Regions from separate parts of the Homo sapiens genome. Here region 2 is linked to region 1. The links come from fine-mapping of genetic effects on gene expression. Tissue or cell type: whole blood. Region 1 holds a variant in brackets; the other region holds the start of a gene. All regions are shown on one strand. Distances are between the middles of the regions.

Region 1 (8,000 bases):
TGGCCAGGCTAGAATGCAGTAGCATGATCATAGCTCACTGCAGCCTTGACCTTCTGGGTTCAGGTGATCCTGAGTAGTAGCTGGGACTGGAGGTGTGTGCCATCATGCCCAGCTAATTTTTTTTTTTTTTTTTTCGTGGAGACAGGGTCTTGCTGTGTTGCTCAGGCTGGTCTTGAACCACTGGCCTCAAGCAATCTTCCCATTTTGGCCCCTCAAAGTGCTGGGATTACTGTGTCTGCCCGACAGTTAAATGTTTTGAAAGTTGGCCGGGCATGGTGGCGGGTGCCTGTAGTCCCAGCTACTCGGGAGGCTGAGGCAGGAGAATGGCGTGAACCCGGGGGCGGTGGAGCTTGCAGTGAGCTGAGATCACGCCACTGCACTCCAGCCTGGACAACAGAGCGAGACTCTGTCTCAAAAAAAAAAAGAAAAAATGTTTTGAGAATTTCTCTTATAACTGGCTGGCTGTGGTGGCTCACGCCTGTAATCCCAGCACTTTGGGAGGCTGAGGCAGGTGGATCACTTGAAGTCAGGAGTTCAAGACCAGCCTGGCCAACATGGTGAAATTCCGTCTCTACTAAAAATACAAAATTAGCCAGCATGATGGCATGTGCCTGTAATCCCAGCTACTCGGGAGGCTGGGGCAAGAGAATCGCTTGAACCTGGGAGGCAGAGGTTGCAGTGAGCCAAGATTGTGCTACTGCATTCCAGCCTGGGCAACACAGCGAGACTCCCATCTCAAAAAAAAAAAAAAAAAAAAAAAGGAAATATATCTTAAATAGAACTCTGTTTGAATTTGTGCTTATTAATTTTTGTTTTTGTCAGCAATTTAGGGTCCCGGCACGGTGGCTCACACCTGTAGTCCCAGCACTTTGGGAGGCAGAGGTGGGCAGATCACTTGAGGGCAGGAGTTAAGACCAGCCTGGCCAACATGGTGAAACCCTGTCTCTACTAAAAATACAAAAATTAGCCAGGTGTGGTGGTGGGCACCTTTAATCTCAGCTACTCGGGAGGCTGAGGCAGGAGAATTGCTTGAACCCAGGAGTTGGATGTTGCAGCGAGCCGAGATGGCACTGCTGCACTCCATTCTAGGCGACAGAGCAAGACTCTGTCTCAAAAAAAAAAAAAAAAAAAAAAAAACAGTAAATGGTAAATTTAAGCGTTATAAATTCTGAATTAATGGAGAAATTATTGACTAGAAAAGTAGAAAGTTATATCAGAAGGCCAAATTTTGTGTAGTTCATGCTATTGTCACGAGTTGACTATAATTCCATTATTACTGTAATTTTGTCTACAACCACTTATCCTGTGCAGCAACTGCTGTTTGCACTCTGGCTTGGTAAACTCTTTAGTTCAGGGGTCATTATCAGGATGTCACTGGCAGCTTAAGGTATAGGGAACAAATATTAGATAACATTTACTGATCTTCTGCTACATGCCAGGCACTGCAGTAAGTGTGCTATCCATGAGGTCCATTCTCTTCTTATTTGAAGCTGAGGAAACTGAAAGCATGGCTTGCCTGAGGTCACTTCACTTCCCTCTGGTCCTGACTGGAGTCAGGCTGGAGCTCTCCTACCCTATATTCTCTCTCAAAGAAAAGGAGACAGGCTAGTAGAAGACATAGAAAAGGTAAGAGCAAATAGGTAGGGCTTATTCCACTCATTCTGGGCTAACAGCCCTTTAAAGAAAAGTATTTGGCTACAAATTGTAGAAACACAGAGCTCGTGTGCCTATTGGCTATAACAGTTACAACCTTTGGAAGAGGGGTTTCGGTGTCCTTTGCCATTTAGCAAGTAATTGAGCAGGAGAGAAAGCAGATGAGCAGAAAGAAGCAAAGAAGTTGAAATAAGTAGAGTGTGGGCAGGGACTCCGCAGTGTCCTGGAGGAGGCACACCTGTCATTGGTGCCCTGGGAACTCATGTATTAGATATTTCTTGGGATCACAGAGGATGTTGGGGGTGGGGAGGATCAGGGCCATTTTCAGGGAGCTGTTTTAAAGGAAGAATACCTTGGGCCAAGTGGAGAAAGGCACTCCCAGACAGAGGGAACAGCATGGAATTATACTCAGGAAATGACAAGTAATTTTATGTGGTCAAACGTGTTAAGAGTCTGTGTGGAAGGCGTTGAGTGTAGAGGTGAGGCTGGAAGTGTGGGGTCAATGTTTTGGAAGTGGTGGTGACCCATGGAAAGGTTTTAGCATAGGAAAAAAATCATCAGAAAAGTATTTAGAGAGAAGAGTTCTGGGGAAGATCGCCTGTGAAGGGGAAGGGGACCAAAGGTGAGGGCACCCCTGGAAAGACTCTGGTGCGGGGCTCAAGCCACTTCCCCTCAGCTGTGAGCGTGGGAGCTCTCTAGTCTTGAGGCTCCTACCTTTAGAGAATACACACAGGGCCGGCCGGGCGCGGTGGCTCACGCCTATAATCTCAGTACTTTGGGAGGCTGAGGTGGACGGATCACGAGGTCAGGAGATTGAGACCATCCTGGGTAGCATGGCGAGGTGAAACCACGTCTCTACTAAAAATAAAAAAATTAGCCAGGCGTGGTGGTGGGCACCTGTAGTACCAGCTACTGGGAAGGCTGAGGCAGGAGAATCGCTTGAATCCGGGAGGTGGAGGTTCCAGTGAGCCAAGATCGTGCCACTGCACTCCAGCCTGAGCGACAGAGCGAGACTCTGTCTCAAAAAAAAAAAAAAAAAAAAAAAAAAAAAATACACACAGGGCTTCTGCAGACGTGCACAGAGGGATTGGAGGCTTTTGTCATCATCTGAAAGAAGAAAGTGGAGGAAGGTATAATACTCACTTGACACCCATTTTCGGGGGTAGGGATCAGGCTTTGACCCATCTTGCTATAGGGAGGATTGCAGAGGTAGGCTCTGAAGGGCAGGTGCCTCTCCCAGCCCCCACTTTTCTTTTTCTGTTTCCTCAGGCCAAACTGCAGGGGCACGTGGAACCACTGAGGAAGCACCTGGAGGCAGTGCAGAAGATGAAAGCCAAGGAGGAGAGGCGAGTGACAGAACTGAAGGTGGGTGAATGTTCTCGACGGGGCTGATGGGCAGTACAGTCGAGGCAAGGAAGGTAGGGCTTCCCACTCTCACAGGGAGTGACTTGGTCCCCTGAGGAGGGGACAGCTAAGGCCTGGGAGAGGGGTAGATGCTTTCCCTAGGTGCTGAGGAGAGCGGGGCCTTAGAGAATCAGGAGGCATGTTCATTCCTGGTTCCAAAATGGAGTGGAAACTGAGGCCTGGATTGGAGGGCCTAGGTGCCTGGCCCAAGGCTGCAGAACAGGCTTTCTACCCGACACCAGAGCCTGAAGGGGGCAAAGCAAAACCCACATAGCAGCCATCAGAGAAGCTGCCGGCCCCAGGATCCATGCAGGCACTGGGCAGAGCAGCCCTAAGCATGAGGCGGACACTGTCCTGGGACACTTGCTGTGTCCTGAGAGGGGGCCAGTGTGTTTAAGCTGGGGCAGGATTTAGTGTATGTTAGCACTGCAGAGACCTAATATTTCCTAGTCTAGTGTTTTCTCAGCACACCCCGACCCCCCCGCTTTTTTTGTTGTTTTTTTCCATTATTGCTCGCCCTTCTCCAAGGAGTCTTTTAAGATACATTTTCCATCCCCACCTCCCGCCTGTTTTCATAACCCCAGCAGGTCCTGCTGGGATGGGCTGGCACTGTGAGCTTCATAGACCAAGCCAGGACCTCCCCTTCTGTCCCTCTTCCCTCCTCCCTTCCCAGCCAGTGCCTGGGCCTTGCCACTACCCAGGGCCCATGCTCACTGCCACCTGAACGTTAGGGACTCTGCTGCTGGCGACTGCTAGGCACTGAATGGTAGGATCTGTCTGGGAGTAGGAAGTCATCGTGCTTCTGGCCAGCTGCCCAAGTTGATACTTTTGGGCTCTCCTGGGTATAGAGGTAACAGGAGCTGTGTGCCCCTGGCATAGAGTGAAGCTGACTGTGGCGGCTGTTCCCTCACGCGTCTGGTCAGTTGGGACCCTCCTCTGGCCTGCTGCTCACAGCGTCTGCAGCCGATGGTAGCTGTGTGAAAAGTGTGCCTACCACCCAGGAAGGGCCATCCCTGGCAAATAGGGTGGGACTGGGCAGGAGTTTTTTCTGTTACAGGATATTAAGTCCCTACATAATATCCTTGATTTTTGCCTCTTAGCCCACAAAGCATAAAAATACTTACTATCTGGACCTTCACAGAAAAAGTTTTTCCGAGTTCTGATCTGGGGCTTTTGGGTGACTTTCTTAAGGTCACTGTGTTTAATGGCGTCGGGACCCTAACTTCATGTTTTGATTCCTGAATTCTTTTATTTATTCATTTCAAAAATTTTTACCA[G/A]GTGCCTACTCTGATTGGTACTATGTCAGGGTCCGAGGACCCTGGCAAACAAAGACATTCCTAGTCCCTGTCAGTGGGAGCTCATGGTACAGTGGGGGAAAGGATGTTAACAGTTACGTCATTTAAACACAACGTTTCAATATTATATGTGCCACAGAGAGATACAGTGATATTTGTGGGGATGGTCCCGATTTAGATCTGGAGAGGAGGGAAGGCTTGTCTTGGAATATTTAAGGTTGGACCTGAAGGATGAGTCAACTTAGGTAGAGTCAGGTGGAGAGGAGTGTTCCAGGCAGAGGTTAGTGAGTTTGAGACCACTGTGCTGGGAGCAAGGGGGTGGTATCTGGTAAGGCTGGTAGGGGATGAGCCTCTTTCCGGGACTATCTTGGACCTGGGGAGTGTAGGGCTCCTTTGCCTTGCATTGAGAAGTAGTAGTTGCAAAACTGGAGGTTATCTTCGTACGTGTTGAGGTGGTGTCTGCCATCCCCTTTGCACCATTCCAGAGCCAGATGAAGTCAGAGCTGGCAGCGGTGGCCTCGGAGTTTGGGCGACTGACACGGTTTCTGGCTGAAGAGCAGGCAGGGCTGGAACGGCGTCTCAGAGAGATGCATGAAGCCCAGCTGGGGCGTGCGGGAGCCGCGGCTAGTCGCCTTGCAGAACAGGCCGCCCAGCTCAGCCGCCTGCTGGCAGAGGCCCAGGAGCGGAGCCAGCAGGGGGGTCTCCGGCTGCTCCAGGTGAGCAATGTCCCCTCCCTGTTCCCCCAGCATTCTGTGTTGGCTGTCAGGCAGTGCTTACCAAACGCCTGTCCAGAGCTGCCTCTTTTCTCCCTGGGAGGAACCCACAGTGATTGAACCTGAAGACCAAAAACATGTTTTAAAGCTGGAAACAGAGTTAATGTCGAATGTGGTATGTGTGGCGATTATACCCAGTGAAAAGCATGAAGATTCGGTTGTAGGAGAGGTTTAAATGACAGTTGAGGAAAGTCTTTTTGACAGTGACATCCTGAAAAAGGTGAGCAAGTCGTATTGTGGAAATGACAGTATCCCTGGGCTCACAGCAGGATGAGGCGAGTTAGGTATGGCGAGGCATGGGGTGGTTGAAATGGATGTGTGTTCATTGAGGGCCGTGAGGGTGCTGCTTCTCCCTTCCTGCTCAGGTTCAGTCTCTGACTGGAGATCGGGGAACGCTGTCCCTGTGCAGCTGACACTCTCTTTATCTCTTTCTCCCTCTCCCTCTTTTTGTTTCTCTTATTCCCAGGACATCAAGGAGACTTTCAATAGGTGTGTTCCCAGTCTTTGCCCTTCGTGACCCAGTGGCATCTGGTTCCCTGTCCCTGCTTCTCTTCGGTATCCCTCTCCTCTCCTTCCTTCCCCAGGACCTGAGTTTCCATCTCCTGGACCCTCCTCTCCTTCCCCTCAGCTTTTGCTTTTCCCTCTGGGAATATCGTGGTCCCACCCCCTGCCCGGTCCCCTTCCTCCAGGTGTGAAGAGGTACAGCTGCAGCCCCCAGAGGTCTGGTCCCCTGACCCGTGCCAACCCCATAGCCATGACTTCCTGACAGATGCCATCGTGAGGAAAATGAGCCGGATGTTCTGTCAGGCTGCGAGAGGTAGGGAGGTCACCTCCACGACCTTCCTTTGCCTTTCCCTTCACAGACCTGAGACTGGGTCCTGAGGGAAGTTGGGCCCCAGGGAAACTGTGGGGCTTGAGATGGAGCAGGATCCAGGCAGCCACTCTGAGGTTGAGGTTTCAAGCCATGAGCAGGTAGACCTAGTGCAGGCAGGCCTGGAGGGTGGGGTGGGGTGGAGTGGCAGGAAGAGCCAGGCTGGGGGAAGACCTGTCAGGTATCCTAGGAACAAGAGTGAGGAGCAAGATGAGCCTGCAGGAATCTGAGGCTGGCCTCTGGGATGGTGTGGGGAGCTGGATTCAGGGAGAAAGGGGGCCCAATCTGTGGAGTTGGCTGCTGACAGGGGAACAGCCGTTCCAGCCCTGGCGTATTTGTCCTCCCTCCCTCCCAAGTGGACCTGACGCTGGACCCTGACACGGCTCACCCGGCCCTGATGCTGTCCCCTGACCGCCGGGGGGTCCGCCTGGCAGAGCGGCGGCAGGAGGTTGCTGACCATCCCAAGCGCTTCTCGGCCGACTGCTGCGTACTGGGGGCCCAGGGCTTCCGCTCCGGCCGGCACTACTGGGAGGTAGAGGTGGGCGGGCGGCGGGGCTGGGCGGTGGGTGCTGCCCGTGAATCAACCCATCATAAGGAAAAGGTGGGCCCTGGGGGTTCCTCCGTGGGCAGCGGGGATGCCAGCTCCTCGCGCCATCACCATCGCCGCCGCCGGCTCCACCTGCCCCAGCAGCCCCTGCTCCAGCGGGAAGTGTGGTGCGTGGGCACCAACGGCAAACGCTATCAGGCCCAGAGCTCCACAGAACAGACGCTGCTGAGCCCCAGTGAGAAACCAAGGCGCTTTGGTGTGTACCTGGACTATGAAGCTGGGCGCCTGGGCTTCTACAACGCAGAGACTCTAGCCCACGTGCACACCTTCTCGGCTGCCTTCCTGGGCGAGCGTGTCTTTCCTTTCTTCCGGGTGCTCTCCAAGGGCACCCGCATCAAGCTCTGCCCTTGATTATCCTGCCACCCGCAGGGGCCCCTCTGTCAGCACTTGGGGGGTGGGTGGTGGAGGGTGGCCCGTAAGTTTGAGGGCTCAAAGGCTCTTCCCACTGCTTGTTACTGTGTTGCTTCCCACTCCCCCTTGACCCCAGGCCCCTGCTTCTCCCTCTAGGAGCCTAAAGAACCCTCCTGGCCTCCAGCTCAGCCTTCTCTCACCTACTATGTCTGTCCAACAGGTCTGCATGGGTCCCTGATAATGAGAACAGCTGCCTGGTCTTCTCTCCCAGTCTGCCTAGCCCAGCCCTGGGACTGGAATTTGAGTAGGGGATGAGGGGAAATTGTAATTTCATTCCTTAACTTCCTTTTCCCCACCCCTGCTCTTCAACCTCTTTATCAGTTCTGAGGCTGGAGGGTTTGGGCAAGGCAACATCCCCATTCCAATTCCATTTTCTGATGCAGATTTTAGCTGAGGGATTTGGAAGCCATTTGGGGAGGCAGGCTGGGCCAAAGGGTAGAGCTGGGTAATAAATGTCTATTCTCCTGGGGAGGAGGGATTCTAAACTTTCCTTCCGTCCTCAATTTCTACCTCCATAGACCGGCCAGAATTTAGCTTCACTTGAGAGAGATCTGGAATGGTCGCCATGATTGAAACCACGCACCATTACATCATCATTACATTAATTACATCAACATAAATTATTTCTTCCCCCTTCCCTTTTCCAGCACTCAACCAAGGAGCAAAGCTCATCCCACCCCACACCCCTCCCAGGTCTGCTCACTGCCAGGCTCCTCTCCCCTTTGTTCAGTGGAGCTGGCTTTTCTCCCAGCCCCTTTCCATGCCTTTCACTCCATTTGGCAAGCTCTGAGGGGGAGCCTGGGGACGGGTTTGGGTCCCCAGGAGGAGAGCCTTGGGTATAATCTATTTTTCTAGGAGCCTCTTGCCTTGTCACTTGCAGCTTTCGCCCTCTGCTTTGATGGCTGAGGTGAACTCATGTTCTTTGGGAAAAGGGAAGGCGTGCTGTGGAAATAAAATGTTTATTTGCTTCTCTTGTGAGGTCTGTT
Region 2 (8,000 bases), 27 kb before region 1:
TAGGATTAAACTGAGATTGCTTTTTCTTCCTCAAGCACATTTATTTCATCACCCTCAAACTTTTACACTTCACTTTCTTTTTAAAGGCCATCTTTCCTGTTTAGCAGTTATAATGCTAACACATGCTCAAAATACAAAACTTGGGAGATGTAGGAAAGTAGAAAGAAGGAAGAAAAGTCCGATGCCAGTGACCAGAGGTAGCAGCACACCCCCAAGGAACGAAGTGAGAATATGCGGCATGCAAGTGTCATATTCTGTTCTTTCCATTAACAGCATACACCGGATTTTTTACTCGAGTTTTCAGATGCAGACTCATGCCCTGATCTCTTGATTTTTTATGTGAACACACGTTTGGCACTCAATATGTCCCACCAGGAAGTTCCTCTTCCTTAAAACTCCTGGGCGGAGGAAGGGAGTCCTGTGAAGTTGGGAGACCTGGGTTCAAGGTGTCCTACAATGCCCCCACCTTTCCTTCAGCTTCCAGGCAGGCTGCAGTAGCCTGGAGCGCCTTATGGATATTAACTCCCTCAACCCTGACGGCAGCCCAGTGGGGAGGGTGCACTTCCCTTCAAGTCTTACAGGTGAGGAGACAAAAGACAGACACATCACCAGGAAGTGTTAAGCCAGGCTTCTCGGCCAGTTGCCTCACAAGGAGGTAGCACAAGTGAAACAGTATTTGCCAAAATACTCTAAGCCAGGGTTTCCCAACCTTAACACAGTTGACATTTTGGGCCAGATACTTCTTGGTTGTAGGGGGCTGCCCTGTGCCTTGTAGGACATTTAGCCGCCCCTCTGGCCTCTACCACGAAATGCCAATAGCATCCCTATCCCATTGTTGACAACCAAAAATATAGTATCTCCAGACTTTGCCAGATGTCCCCTGGGGTAGGAGCATTTTCAAATAAGAGCATTCCTTCTCCCTTTTGTGTTGCAGCAATAGTTGGGCTCTACCTCTGATGTTTCATTAAGCAGGGTATTGTAAATGAGACAAGTGTCATAAATCCAGAAGTATTTTATTGCTGCAAAGAACAGGTAGAGCTCACACCTGTCATCTCAGCACTTTGGGAGGCTGAGGGGGGCAAAGTCAGGGGAGAAGGTTGCTTGAGCCCACGAGTTCCAGACCAGCCTGGGCAACACAGGAGACTACCCCCAACCCCAGCTCTACAAAAAATAAATTAAAAATTAGCCGGGTGTAGTAGTGCACACCTGTAGTCCCAGCTACTCAGGAGGCTGAAGTGGGGGGATCGCTTGAACGACTCCAGCCTTTGTGACAAAGTGAGACTCTGTCTAAAAGCAAAGCAAAACAAAACAACAACAAAAACGAATGTGGGGGTGGATGGATGGATGTTGGGAGAGGACAGAGGTGGAAGGTGTTAAGCAAGGCCTGGGGACTCCGGTCAGAGACTGTGAAGCTGCCGCCGGTGCCAGGGAAGGCCCTCTGGTTCCTGGATGTCAACCAGTGGGGGAAGAGCTGCATTGGGAGTCATTTCTCCAGTGGAGGAGGGATGAAGGTCTAGAGGGTGAGCTCTTCCTCATGGAGGAAAGTGAGTGATGAGGTAGGAAGGTCTGGGATGCACACTGGGTGCAGGCATAACAGATATAGTTGAGGGTCTGGAAAGGACCCTAGGGTGTCTGAACTCCAGGCTCCTCCTCCACCCCTCCTGACATTGAGGATGGGAGGGTCCTCTAGTTCACCTTCCTTCAATTCCCTGCCTTGACAGGTCCTAGTAGATCCTTTCATTCTTTTTTTTTTTTTTTTTTGAGATGGAGTTTCACTCTCGTTGCCCAGGCTGGAGTGCAGTGGCATGATCTTGGCTGACCGCAACCTCTACCTCCCGGGTTCAAGTGATTCTCCTGCCTCAGCCTCCCGAGTAGCTGGGATTACAGGCATGTGCCACCACGGCAGGCTAATTTTGTATTTTAAGTAGAGATGGGGTTGCTCCATGTTGGTCAGGCTGGTCTGGAATTCCCAACCTCAGGTGATCCGCCCACCTCGACCTCCCAAAGTGCTGGGATTACGGGCGTAAGCCACCGCACCCAGCCAATCCTTTTATTCTTTCAACACCTATTTACTGAGCTAGGAACTGAATTTGCAAGGTAGAAAATGACCGATGGTGATTCATGTTTGCTTATCTTTTTTTTTTTTTTTAAGGTGGAGTCTCGCTCTGTCTCCCAGGCTGGAGTGCAGTGGCGCGATCTCGGCTCACTGCAAGCTCTGCCTCCCGGGTTCACACCATTCTCCTGCCTCAGCCTCCGGAGTAGCTGGGACTACAGGCGCCCGCCACCACGCCCGGCTATTTTGTATTTTTAGTAGAGACAGGGGTTTCACCGTGTTTGCCAGGACGGTCTTGATCTCCTGACCTCGTGATCCGCCCACCTCGGCCTCCCAAAGTGCTGGGATTACAGGCGTGAGCCACCCTGCCAGGCCTCATGTTTGCTTATCTTAACCAAAATGAGCCCTCGTTTCACTTTCCTGTTCTACCCTAAGGAAGATAAAATATCATTCCAACTTGGGGTAGAGGCAGGTGCCAGTACCCAAGACCCTGGGCTGTGCAGCAGGGGCTACTGTAAACCCAAGACCCTAAACTTCCTCCCTCTGCCAGAGCCAGGGAGCAGCTCTGACGCCCTCTAGCCCCTTCTCCGTTAGCCTCGATTTCAAATAAAAACACTGTGAACATGAAATTTTTTTCACTACTGTTTTGTTGACAAAACATGCCATGAGGCTCTTTATTGTATTAATATTCCCACTTATTGAATATCCATGTTTCTCTGCAGAAATAGTAATGTGTTCCATTACAAGATGCTTCCGCAGGCCCTAACTGGTATGTTACGTAATATCAGAGTGACTGAGCGTCCTGATTCGCTGGGACAGCTCCAGTTTAAGCCAGTTGTTTTGCAATAATTATTTTAGCACTGCTTTTCACTTTAAAAAGCTCTGGTTTGTACAACAATTATGTGGACACCCTATATAATATGGACTCTATTATCTTTCTGAAATCGATTCTGCGGTTCCATAGCACACACTCCAACACCACACACACCGAGCCCTGGTGCTGAGTTCTCAGGCCTCTGTAATGTCCCACGGGGGGCCTGCGGGTGCCTGGCTCACCAGCAGCTCCTTGCTCTCCTTCTTTTCCGTGGACCGGAACACCTCACAGTCCTCCAGTTCCTTCTTCAAGACCCTCAGCCTGGACTCCAAGAGCTCCTGTAGATGAAGGGAAACAATGTAAGGTGGGGGTGAGGGGCTTCTGGAAACCCCCACCTCTGCCTTCCTGGAGCCAGCCAGGAGAAAGGGAAGGCCCTGCTCACTGAGGGGGAGGCCGGGTAGAAGTCATCTCTACAGGCTACAGGTTACACTGCGAGGTGACTCTGAAGGTCTCGGGATCTTGCTTCCCCAAAAGCATCTGCTGGACCAGCCAGACTGAAACACAAGCTCCGGCAGCCCTACCCCTAGTCGTCTCCTCTACTCTCCGCCCCCCCACCAGGAAGCCCCGTGGCTGGGAGAGTTGGAGCAGGATGGGCCAGCAAGGAGAGACTGGGGACTGCCGCCCGAGCCTCCCCGCCCCGCCCTCACCCCTGCACACACCCTCGCTGAGGCTCAGCGAGAAAATAGCAAAGAAAGGGCCCCCAGAATCGACAGCGTTGGCACAGTCAGACGGCTCTAGGTGCGCGGCTTAACCCGGGAGCCCCCTCCCTGGACATCTTGGCGAGGTCCTCTCACTCAGTTCCACGAGGTGGGGACTTTGAGCAGAGCCCGCTTCGGGGAAAGAGATAAGAGTGGGGGCAGCGGCTGCGTGGCTGTGCCGGAGACTTCCCGCGGGCAGAGAGCTGCGGAGACGCAGACCAGGCTAGAGGCTCCGAACAGACAGGAAGAACATCGCCAAGTCCGTGGGGGACGTCGCGCAGGCGGCCCAGTATCTGGCCCAGAGGGAAACGCAGTGGGGGTGGGGTGGGGGTATTGGTGATGTTGGGGGTGACAGAGAACCGCGCTCAGCCCGGGAACCAGCGCTGGGCTTCCTGGAATGGAGAAAGAAGGGAGGGGCTCACCCGGGCCTCCTGATCGACAGGCTGTTCTCTGCACCCCGTGCGCGGGAGCGCGGGACCAAGTCAGGGGGTCCCGGGGACCCACGGGGTGGGTGGGGGCTGCGCTCACCTTGGCCTCCTGCACCGCCTCGTCCAGCGGCAGCACGGCGTGCTCGCGGTGCTCGCGGGCGCGGTCGCACACCACGCAGATGGCGCGTCCGTCGTCCTGGCAGTAGAGCTTGAAGGGTTCGCCATGCTGCCCGCAGCGGGCAGCCGCTGCCCGGGCCGCGGCCGCCTGAGACCCGTGCTCTCCCGGGGCAGCCGCGGGCAGGCTGAAGCGCCGCAGGAGCGTGGCCACTGCCGCCAGCTGCCGGTTGGGCCGCAGCTGACTGGGGCGCGCGGGCTCGCGGCACTGCGGACAGGGCAGTGGGAAGGGGGGCGCGCGGGTGGCGGCCCCAACAGACCCCGCGCCCGGGCGCTCCCAGCAGCGCCCTATGCAGGCGCGGCAGAAGCTGTGGCCGCACTCGACGGACACCGGCTCACGAAAGAGCTCTAGGCAGATGGAGCACGTCGCCTCGCCCTGCAGCTCTGCCGCCAGCGCTAGAGCCTCGGCGCCGGTTCCGGGGCCGGTCCGCGGTCCCACAGCCGCCATGCGCGCTCTCCGCGCACCCAGATCTGGTCGCGCCTGGGCGGCCACTGGACCTCACAGGACGCGGAGCTGGGCGCCGAGGGCCCACTGGGAGAGGAAGGGCGGGGCTGCCACTGGGCAGGCAGAGACTCGAGCCCGGGGCGCGCCCGGCTGGGAGCCGGGAGGGGAGGCGCACGTTGACTACGGGCCATTCAAGTGCGGGACAGCGCCCTGCGCCCCGGATCTGCGCTCCACCAGCCCCCGCCCTGGCCAGCGGCCTCTCCCCCTCGCCCCCGTCCCTCAGACTCTCCAGGCCGCCCCAGCCTGACCCAGTCAGCCGCGGGAAACGGGCCGCGACAGGTGGGCGCACAAATGCTGCCAGCGCCACTCCCGGTTTCCGACCGAGGCCGACCCAGCATCGCCGGGGCAAGGGCCTGGCGCTCGGGCCACGGTGTCAGGTTCCGCCAGCGCAGGTTCGCCCCGGCCCTGTGCTGAGTTAAATTTAGAGACTGGAACCTGGTCCTGTCCCCTCACGCGCAAGCGTGGCCTTGTATCCATTCCATTACCTTTTCTGCGACTGTCCTCCGGCTTCTTTACTCTTTACTTAGTATTTGAACAGATAACACATTTATAATTTCCCATTGTATTCAGTATTATTCCCCCCCCACCGCACACACACACACACACACACACACACACACAAACCTCAGCGCTCTCTTGTCCCCCAGCTGTCTCCACAGCCCCGCAGCAGAGCTGCCTGTGTTATCCGCTTCCACACCCTCTCTCCTCGCTCACTCTGGAGGCCACTTGGATCAAGCTTTCGCCCGCACCCTCCTCAGAAACCGCCCTTGCCAATGTCACCGGGAACTTCAGCAATTCTCACCCAAAGGCGAAGACCTCGCCTCACCTCATCTGCCCCCGGATGCTCCCTCCTTCCCGACTTCCCTTCTCAGGGCCTTCCAGGACCCAGTGTCCCCGATCTTCTTGCTGTTCCTGAACCCCGTGGCCTCTGCGCTGGCTGTTCCCCTTGCGTGGACCTCTTTTCTCCCACCACCTGCATGCTCCCTCCCACCTCATTCAGGTCTTGTTTCAAACGTCTCTGCCCACGAAGCCCGCCCCGAACGCGCACACTGTGTAAAGTCGTCTCTTAGCGCGCTCCCTTCTCAGGGCCGGCTCTGTGCCCGCACTCTATCTCCTCTGGAATGTCAGCTTTCAGATGGACTGTACTAGGTTTGTTCACGGCTGAATCCTGTTTTTAGAGCAGTTCTTGGCAAGCTCAGTAAGGTTTTCTTGGATTAAACTTGGTTCGAAATTCAAAAGAGGAGCCGCAGTTCACGGTGGAAAGTAGGCCCATCGCCTGTGTCCCAGTCCTTTCTTCCTCCCGAGCAATCAACTTTACAATTCTGGATTACGTTAATCAAATATTCCGTATTTTATTGCCTCAACCCCCACTTTTAAAAAACAAAACGTAGCATCCTGCACAATTTTCCTTTCTTCTCTTTTTCAGGTCACAGTTCATTTTTGGCATCGTGCCTGATGATTGTCTCTCCTTTTTCCACAGCTGCTCCCAGGTGCTTAGCCGGGCCTAATCCTCTCTCTTGGAATCCCTTGGTCAAGACCCGCTGGTTTGGAGTCAGCGGAGGACGCTGGAACAACTCTTGCCCTGCGATGCCGGGTTTTTGCAGCGGCTGAGACCCAGCGCGTACCGGTTGCCTTCCACTCCCGGTGTCCTGAGTTAAGCGACCAATAGGGACCATCTGGGAGAGCTGCTGAGAGTAGGTGGGGATGTAGCTCAGTGGTAGAGCGCATGCTTTGCATGTATGAGGCCCCGGGTTCGATCCCCGGCATCTCCAGTGTAGTTTTGCACATTCAATTATTGTTTTCGATTTTCCTTTCAAATTTTGAAATCCAGCATGTTTGAAGAGCTCCAAGAAAAAACCCAGAGGGTGGAGTCTGCGGAGTAGAAAAAGACCGCGGCGGCCCCTGCCCTCCTCTGGGCCCCATTGTCTTTCCCTCCTGTTTTAAAATCCACACGGTACTTGACCGGGTGAGGTAGCTCACGTCTGTAATCCCAGCACTTTGGGAGGCCGAGGCGGGTGGATCACGAGGTCAGGAGTTTGAGGCCAGCCTGACTAACATGGAGAAGCCCCGTCTCTACTAAAAATACAAAAATTAGCCGGGAGTGGTGGCACACGCCTGTAATCCCAGCTACTCAGGAGGCTGAGGCAGGAGAAGTGCTTGAATCCAGGAGGCAGAGGTTGCAGTGAACCGAGATTGCGCCACGACACTCCAGCCTGGGCGACAGAGCCGCAGTTCGTGGTGAAAGGTAGGCCCATTTTTTGAGAGTCTTCTCTGTCAAAAAAAAAAAAAAAAAAAAAATCCACACGGTGAGAGCTCCAGTGGCGTCAGGGTGCACGTTTCTCCATCTCCGTGCCGTGAGCTTCATCGCGGGTAGAAAATGGCTTGGTCGCTGGTAGGGTAGAAGGGGCAGGAAACGGACGTAAGTGGGAGGGACGGTCAGGCACTGACGGCAGAGTTTGAATTTCCCAGGAGCCGAGGCACTTTAGTAGTTTTATCACACTCCAAATAAATCCAAGTTCAAACCCGCAGTTGAATACACTCCGACTCTGATCTAGAATGAAAAATTGTTGAGATACGGTCATCGGGCGCCCGGCTAGCTCAGTCGGTAGAGCATGAGACTCTTAATCTCAGGGTCGTGGGTTCGAGCCCCACGTTGGGCGGCAACTGGTCGTTTTAGTCCTAAATCTACGACTACTAGCCATACCTAAAAATATATTATAAGTAGACCAGCTCTTAGGAAAATAATCTGCTCTGAAGTCTTGCATTTCTGTGTGTGTAATACTCTTGCGGGCGCTCCACTGTTCATTATCTACCCATTATCTTGCGATACAATTAGGATTTAAAGCTGTGGTAAAATATGCCCAACAAAATTTAACACTTTTTAACTGTACAGTTCTGTAGCATTAAATACATTTAAATGGTTGTGCATCAGTCTCCAGTCCTTTTTCCTGTTTCCCAGATGAAACTCTGAACCCATTCAGCATTAACTCTCCATTCCCCTCTGCCCACAGACGCTGGCAACCACCATTCTACTTTCTGTGTCTTTGAATTTGACTCCTCTAGATACCTCATATAAGATGAATCGTGCAATATTTCCTTTTTAAATTGTCTTATTTCACTTAATGTCTTCAAGATTCATCCTTATATTTCCTTTTTAAATTGTCTTATTTCACTTAATGTCTTCAAGATTCATCCTTATTGTAGCATGTGTCAAAATTTCCTTCCTTTTAAAGCTGATTAGCATTCCATTGCACATATATACCACATT

Evidence for each region. PIP is the estimated chance that this variant, and not a neighbour inherited with it, causes the effect.
Region 2: it holds the start of TRIM7, and the variant in region 1 is fine-mapped to the expression of TRIM7 in whole blood (TOPMed, PIP above 0.99).

Annotation. Positions count from the first base shown.
Region 1 is chr5:181,227,822-181,235,821 of GRCh38, forward strand. It overlaps TRIM41 (tripartite motif containing 41), which reads left to right. Exons shown (of 6, transcript NM_033549.5): 2 at 2,923-3,018; 3 at 4,838-5,068; 4 at 5,592-5,614; 5 at 5,815-5,942; 6 at 6,353-7,987. The coding sequence ends at 6,954. Among named protein-coding and RNA genes, the nearest start is that of TRIM41, 8.5 kb to the left of the region's middle. The variant G/A (reference allele first, on the strand shown) is at 4,335.
Region 2 is chr5:181,200,436-181,208,435 of GRCh38, forward strand. TRIM7 (tripartite motif containing 7) reads right to left here and starts at 4,761. Exons shown (of 7, transcript NM_203293.3): 1 at 4,154-4,761; 2 at 3,110-3,205. The coding sequence starts at 4,675. It overlaps TRIM7-AS1 (TRIM7 antisense RNA 1), which reads left to right. Exons shown (of 2, transcript XR_001743050.3): 1 at 1-581; 2 at 2,153-2,682. TRA-TGC3-1 (tRNA-Ala (anticodon TGC) 3-1) reads left to right here and starts at 6,433; the gene lies at 6,433-6,504. It overlaps TRK-CTT2-2 (tRNA-Lys (anticodon CTT) 2-2), which reads left to right and starts at 7,320; the gene lies at 7,320-7,392. RefSeq lists silencers at 1,914-2,208, 4,020-4,089, 4,130-4,459, 4,720-5,039, 6,344-6,443 and enhancers at 7,144-7,203, 7,584-7,673.